2 separate regions of the Homo sapiens genome follow, and region 1 is linked to region 2. The links come from fine-mapping of genetic effects on gene expression. A gene starts in region 2. The other region holds a variant in brackets. All regions are shown on one strand. Distances are from middle to middle.

What was found. PIP is the estimated chance that this variant, and not a neighbour inherited with it, causes the effect.
Region 1: its variant is the best candidate, but not a certain one, in a credible set for the expression of OR4D1 in T cells (TOPMed, PIP 0.56).

What each region holds. Positions count from the first base shown.
Region 1 is chr17:58,126,074-58,128,994 of GRCh38, forward strand. No RefSeq gene overlaps it. Among named protein-coding and RNA genes, the nearest start is that of OR4D1, 21 kb to the right of the region's middle. The variant T/A (reference allele first, on the strand shown) is at 1,450.
Region 2 is chr17:58,147,053-58,149,973 of GRCh38, forward strand. It overlaps OR4D1 (olfactory receptor family 4 subfamily D member 1), which reads left to right and starts at 1,332. Exons shown (of 4, transcript NM_001386095.1): 1 at 1,332-1,532; 2 at 2,377-2,744.

The DNA of each region.
Region 1 (2,921 bases), 21 kb before region 2:
ATTTTGAATTAACATTCAGTAAAGTTGACTTTGTAGACAATTTTATAATTTTTTTTTTTTGAGATGAGGTCTTGCTCTGTCACTGGAGTGCAGTAGAATGATCACAGCTCACTGCAGCCTTGACCTCCCAGGCTCAAGCGATCATCCCACCTCAGCCTCCCAAGTCACTGGGAGGCTGCCACCACACCTGGCTAATGAAAACAGTTTTTTAAATTTTGGTAGAGACAGGGTCTCAGTATGTTGTCCAGGCTGGTCTCAAACTCCTGGACTCCAGCAATCCTCCTGCCTTGGCCTCCCAAAGTGCTAGGATTACAGATGTAAGCTACCGTGACTGGTCACAGTTTTATGAATTTTAACACACGTTGATTTAGGTAAGCACCACAAGATACAGAAGAGTTTCATTACCTCCGAAAACTCCCTCATGCTACCCCTTTGTAATCACACTGTCCTTCCCATCCCTAAGTCTTGGCAACCACACATCTGTTCTCTATCACTATAGGCTTGTCTTTTTGAGAATGTCATATCAATGGAATCATACAGCATGTAACATTTTAGGACTAACTTCTTTCATTCAATAATGCCTTTGAGATTCATCTAAGTGGTTGCATGTATCAACAGTTCATTGCTTTTTCTCACTGAGGAATGTTAGGTTTATCTATTTACCACTGAAGGACATGGGGTTGTTTCCAGTTGTTTATTGTTGTTTTGGAAATTATAAATGGAGCCATTACAACTATTTATTTACAGGTTTTGGTGCGAATATAAGCTTTTAAGTTTTCTAGGGTAAATACCTAAGAATTGTTGTCATATTATAAAGTGTATTTAACTTTATAAGACTGCCAAACTGTTTTCCAGAGTGGCAATATCATTTTGTAATCCCACCAGCAATGTCAGAGTTCTAGTTGCTTCTCATCCTAGTAAGCACTTGGTATTGTCAGTATTTTAATATTTTTAAGTATGTGTGGGGGGGGTGTTTGTTTGTTTGTTTGTTTTTTGAGACATAGTCTCACTGTGTCACCCAGGCTGGAGTGCAGTGGCGCGATCTCGGCTCACTGCATTTCCGCCCCCCGAGTTCAAGCAATTCTACTGCCTCAGCCTCCCATGTAGCTGGAATTACAGGTACAGGTGTGTGCCATCACATTCAGCTAATTTTTGTACTTGTAGTAGAGTCTTGTCATTATGAACTGGTCTTGAACTCCTGGCCTCAAGTGATCTGCCCGCCTTGGCCTCCCAAAGTGCTGGGATTATAGGTGTGAGCCACCGTGCCCGGCCAAACTTTTATTTATTTAGTTTAATTTTTACTTACTTATTTATTTGTTTGAGACGGAGTATCACTCTGTCACCCAGGCGGGAGTGCAGTGGCGTGATCTCAGTTCACCGCAACCTCCGCCTCCTGGGTTCAAGAGATTCTCCTGCCTCAGCCTCCCGAGTAGCTGGGATTACAGGTGT[T/A]TGCCACCACACCTGGCTAATTGTTGTAATTTTAGTAGAGACGGGGTTTCACCATGGTGGCGCGGCTGGTCTTGAACTCCTGACTTCAAATAATCCACCCATCTCAGCCTCCCAAAATGTCGCAATTACAGGCATGAGCCACTATGCGTGGACTTTTAAACCTCTCTTTCTTTATAAATTACCCAGTCTTGGGTATTTCTTCACAGCAATATGAAAATGGACTAATACACCTTTTATTTCTTTTTATTACCTTAATTAACTGGCTGAGAATTCCAGTATGTTGTTGAATAGGAGTAATGAGAGTAACCATCCTTGCTTTTTTCAATCCTCACAGCATCTTACACATGAATGTTTATCCAGGGATCTTTAGATATTTGAGGAAACCATCTGAAAAACAGGTCAATGGGAGTCGTTATATTATTCCCTCACTCTTTTATTTTTCTCTTTTTCTCTCTTTCTTTCTTTCTCTCTCTCTTTCTTTCTTTCTTCTTTCTTTTCCTTTCCTTCCTTCCTTTCTCTTTCTTTATTGCTTTTCTTTCTCTCTTTCTTTCTCTTTCCTTCTTTCTCTCTCTCTCTCTCTCTCTCTCTAGATAGGGTCTCACTCTGTTATGCAGGCTGAAGTGCAGTGGTGTAATCATAGATCACTGCAGCCTCAAACTCATGGGCTTAAGTGATCCTTCCACCCTAGCCTCCCCAGCAGCTGGGACTACAGGCATACACCACCAGGCCTGGCTGAAGGTATTTCTTAATTTTCCTTTAGCATCCAGTTTGTTCTTGATTAATCTGAAGCTGTTATGCTTCTTGTTATTTTGTGGGTGGGTGACCTATTCCTTATCTCTGGAGACTTTAAGGACCTCGTTTTTATTCTTAATGTTTTGAAATTTTATGAAAAAGTGCTTAGTGTGGATTAAATTTCTTCTGATGATGTTTTTCAGTCTGAGAGACTTTTATTTCTTTGATAATTTTTTCACCTTTTTAGTTGCCATTCTTTTGGGAATTCCTACTGAAATAATTTCTAAGCCTCTTATGTATTTTCTTCAGTTGCTTACCTAATTTTTTATTCTACATTCAGAAGAGATTTCCTCAACTTGATTTTCCAATCCCTCTGTTGAAGTTTTAATTTCTGTAAACATATTTGAATTCCCAAAAGCTCTTTTTTTGTTCTCTAGTTTTTAAATATAATTCCATTCTTAATTTATAGGTATTATATCTTCTTGCTTCTCTCTAAAGATACTAATTACATGAACTAAAGGGTTTTTTGTAAAGGTTTCTTACATTCTCTGTATCATTTTTGTTTTCTTCTCATTCATTTTTCTATTTATTTTGTTTTTGCTTTTTAATGTTGAAAGCCTTTCTTAAATGCCTGGTTATCTTTGGTTGCCTTTATCCATTTAGGAGGAAGGCACTAAAATTAGATTAGAACTTCTATATATAGGCAGAGCTCTTATGCTGATGGACTTCACTTTAGGGGA
Region 2 (2,921 bases):
ACCTCCCAACCAAGAAAAGTCCAGTACCAGATGGCTTTAGTGGTAAATTCTGCCAAACATTTAAAGGAGTATGAACACCAATACTATGCAAGTTCTTGTAAAAAAAAAAAAAAAAAACAGAAGCAAAGGGAACACTTTTTAACACATTCTATGAGGCCAGCATTATCTTGATACCAAAGCCAGACAAAGATACAAGAAAAGAACTACAGACCATATTCTTTATAAATACAAATGCGAAAATTATGAGATGCCACTTCACTCTCACTATTCTAAGTAAGATGGTTATTCCTCAAAAGATTAGGCACAGTTGCTATAAAATCCAGCAATTCCACATCTAGCTATATACCAAAGAAAAATGAAAGAATACATCCACACAAAATCCTATACATGAATATTCCTAGCAGCTTTATTCATAATAGCTAAAAAGTGGAAAGAACTCAAATGTCCGAGAGCTGACTGACTGATTTACAAAAGTGGTATATCCATATGATGTAATATTATCCAGTCATAAAAAGGAATGACTGGTACATGACTAGTACTGGTACATGCTACAGTACAGATGAAACTTAAAAACATAAGTGAAAGAAGCAGGACACAAAAGCCATATATCATCATATGTGTGTTATATGATTCAATTTTTAGGAAATGTCCAGAACAGGCAAATCCAGAGACAAAAAGTAGATTAGTGGTTTCCAGAGACTGAGGAGAGAACAGAATGGGCAGTGACTGCTAAAGGATATGAGATTTCTTTTCAGAACGAAGAAAATGTTCTGGAATTAGGTAGTGGTGATGGTTACACAAGTTTGTGAATATACTAAAAACCACTGAATGGTTAAAATCATTTAATAATTGTGAAGCTTATGGTAGTTGAATTATATCTTGAGGATGAACTTAGCCAATTTACATTGAGAGTTCACTTTGGCTGAGAGAAGAGCAGATCAGAGATTGGGATAAGAGATGGTACCTTAATGACTGTACATATGAAAAAGGCTTTGGAGTTTATAGAGGGGGTGACCTGGACTGTGTCCTAGGACATAACTCACTTTTCCAACTACAGTGGTGATAGGAGAGGGTGGAGGCCTTGCACTGCCCATGGTGCTGAGGGATTTGGTTCTTGTAAACCTCCCTGGGAATTCACGTCTCTTTAGGGTTCTTATCCTTCTTCATCTTGGTCCTTTGATCAGTAACTCTGAAATGTTGGCCCCAAGACAGTCTCCCAATAATTATGTGCATCTGATGCAACATCTCACATACTTTTTAATAACTCCCATTGCTCATTTGCCCTTAGCAGCCTGAGCCAGGCTTTATCTTATGAATTAAGCCTAAGTTTTACTCCCCAAGGAATTTCCCTTTCCTTAAGGCCAATCCCATATGTGTTCCTTGTCTGAGAGAGGCCAGGAGAAGAATGGAGCTACAGGAGAAGAGTGACCTGGGAGATGGGAGGCTCTAAGTCCTCTTGGCCACTGTGGGCTGGAGGAAGGTGATGGCCTCATTGTCCTTCCCATGGACAAATCAGCACGACAAAGCCTATCGTGAGACAAGCATGGGGTGGAGGGAAGGCATGGGGGAAGTCATCAGGCATTAATGCAAGGGGAACGGGATTTGGGAAACATTGATTTTATCTAACATTAAGACTTTTGTCTGTATTGGCTTATGTGCTGGGTGGAATTTAGAACAGAGGGTGGGAGGGAGAGCGGAATATAGACATACACTGTTATCTCCCCCGCCTCCCACATACATACTACAGCTTCTTCCCACACCTAGGAGAAAACACAAACAGGTCTTGCTCTGACACTTTCCACCCTCTACTGTTCCTTTTTAAGTCTCATCTTCCTCCATCTTCCCCCTTCTCCTGCCTGCTTCTCTCACTCACTCCAGATTTTCTTCCCTTCTTTATTGCTGTCCCTCCATCTTATCCTCTCTTTTCTTAAATCTTGTGTTTAACAATACCTGTTAATGCTCCCTGGATGACAACAGACTAGATTCTACCCCATTTTGGGAACCCACTTATTCCTTCTCCCCTCGTCTCTCCTAGTCCTGTGTGGGCTGATTTTCTAAGAGCAAAGACAGATGGGAGAGAAGATTGAGTAACAACAGAAGAGGTCTAGAATCCTCCCCTTTCCCCATACAGATCCATGTCCCTCCCTATGTCTATTTTCTTTCTTGTCTAGAATCCCTCTAAATCTATTTTCTATGCATGTAGGGGGAGGAAGCATTTGCAAAGATTCTGATGGGTTTGTGGAAAGAATCGGGCCATGCTAAGATGATGCTTCTAGGATTGTAAATCTGGTGATGCTGGGAATTAGGATTCTTGGATTCTCTTTGAGGTCCTATAAACTGCATTCTATCCAGTGGCTACTCTCTCTTTCTTCCCAGCTCTCACGGCAGTCTGGCCCATCCCAGCACCCTGTCCTCCATTAAGCAATCACACATTCTTTTGGGAACCAACTATGAGAAAGGGTCTGTGTGTACCACGTACTGTGTAATACTTAACATATTGGATTTGCACTGAAATTACAACACATGTGAGGAACAGAGCCATCCTCATGAAAAAATACCAAGGCATAGCAACATTATGGAAGAGCTAATTACTCTTGAACCTTGAAGGAAGGGTAGAATTCAGACAGGTGAACAGGACAGAAAAGCAATTCAGATGCGGCACTGACTGGATGAAGGCACTGAGACCTGAGGGACCGAAGAAGAGATAAGTTTGGCTGAAGCTGAATCTTCTTAGAGGAGAGCAGGTAAGAGGAGAATAGTCATTAGGAGTGCAAATTCTGGGTCAATCAGACCTGGCTCAGAATCCCAGCTCTGCTTCTTCTTCTCCATGTGATCTGGGAGAAATTAGTTAACCTATTCAAGCCACAGTTTACTTATCTGTAAAGTGGAGATAATTTATGGTACTTACTATACTTATAAAC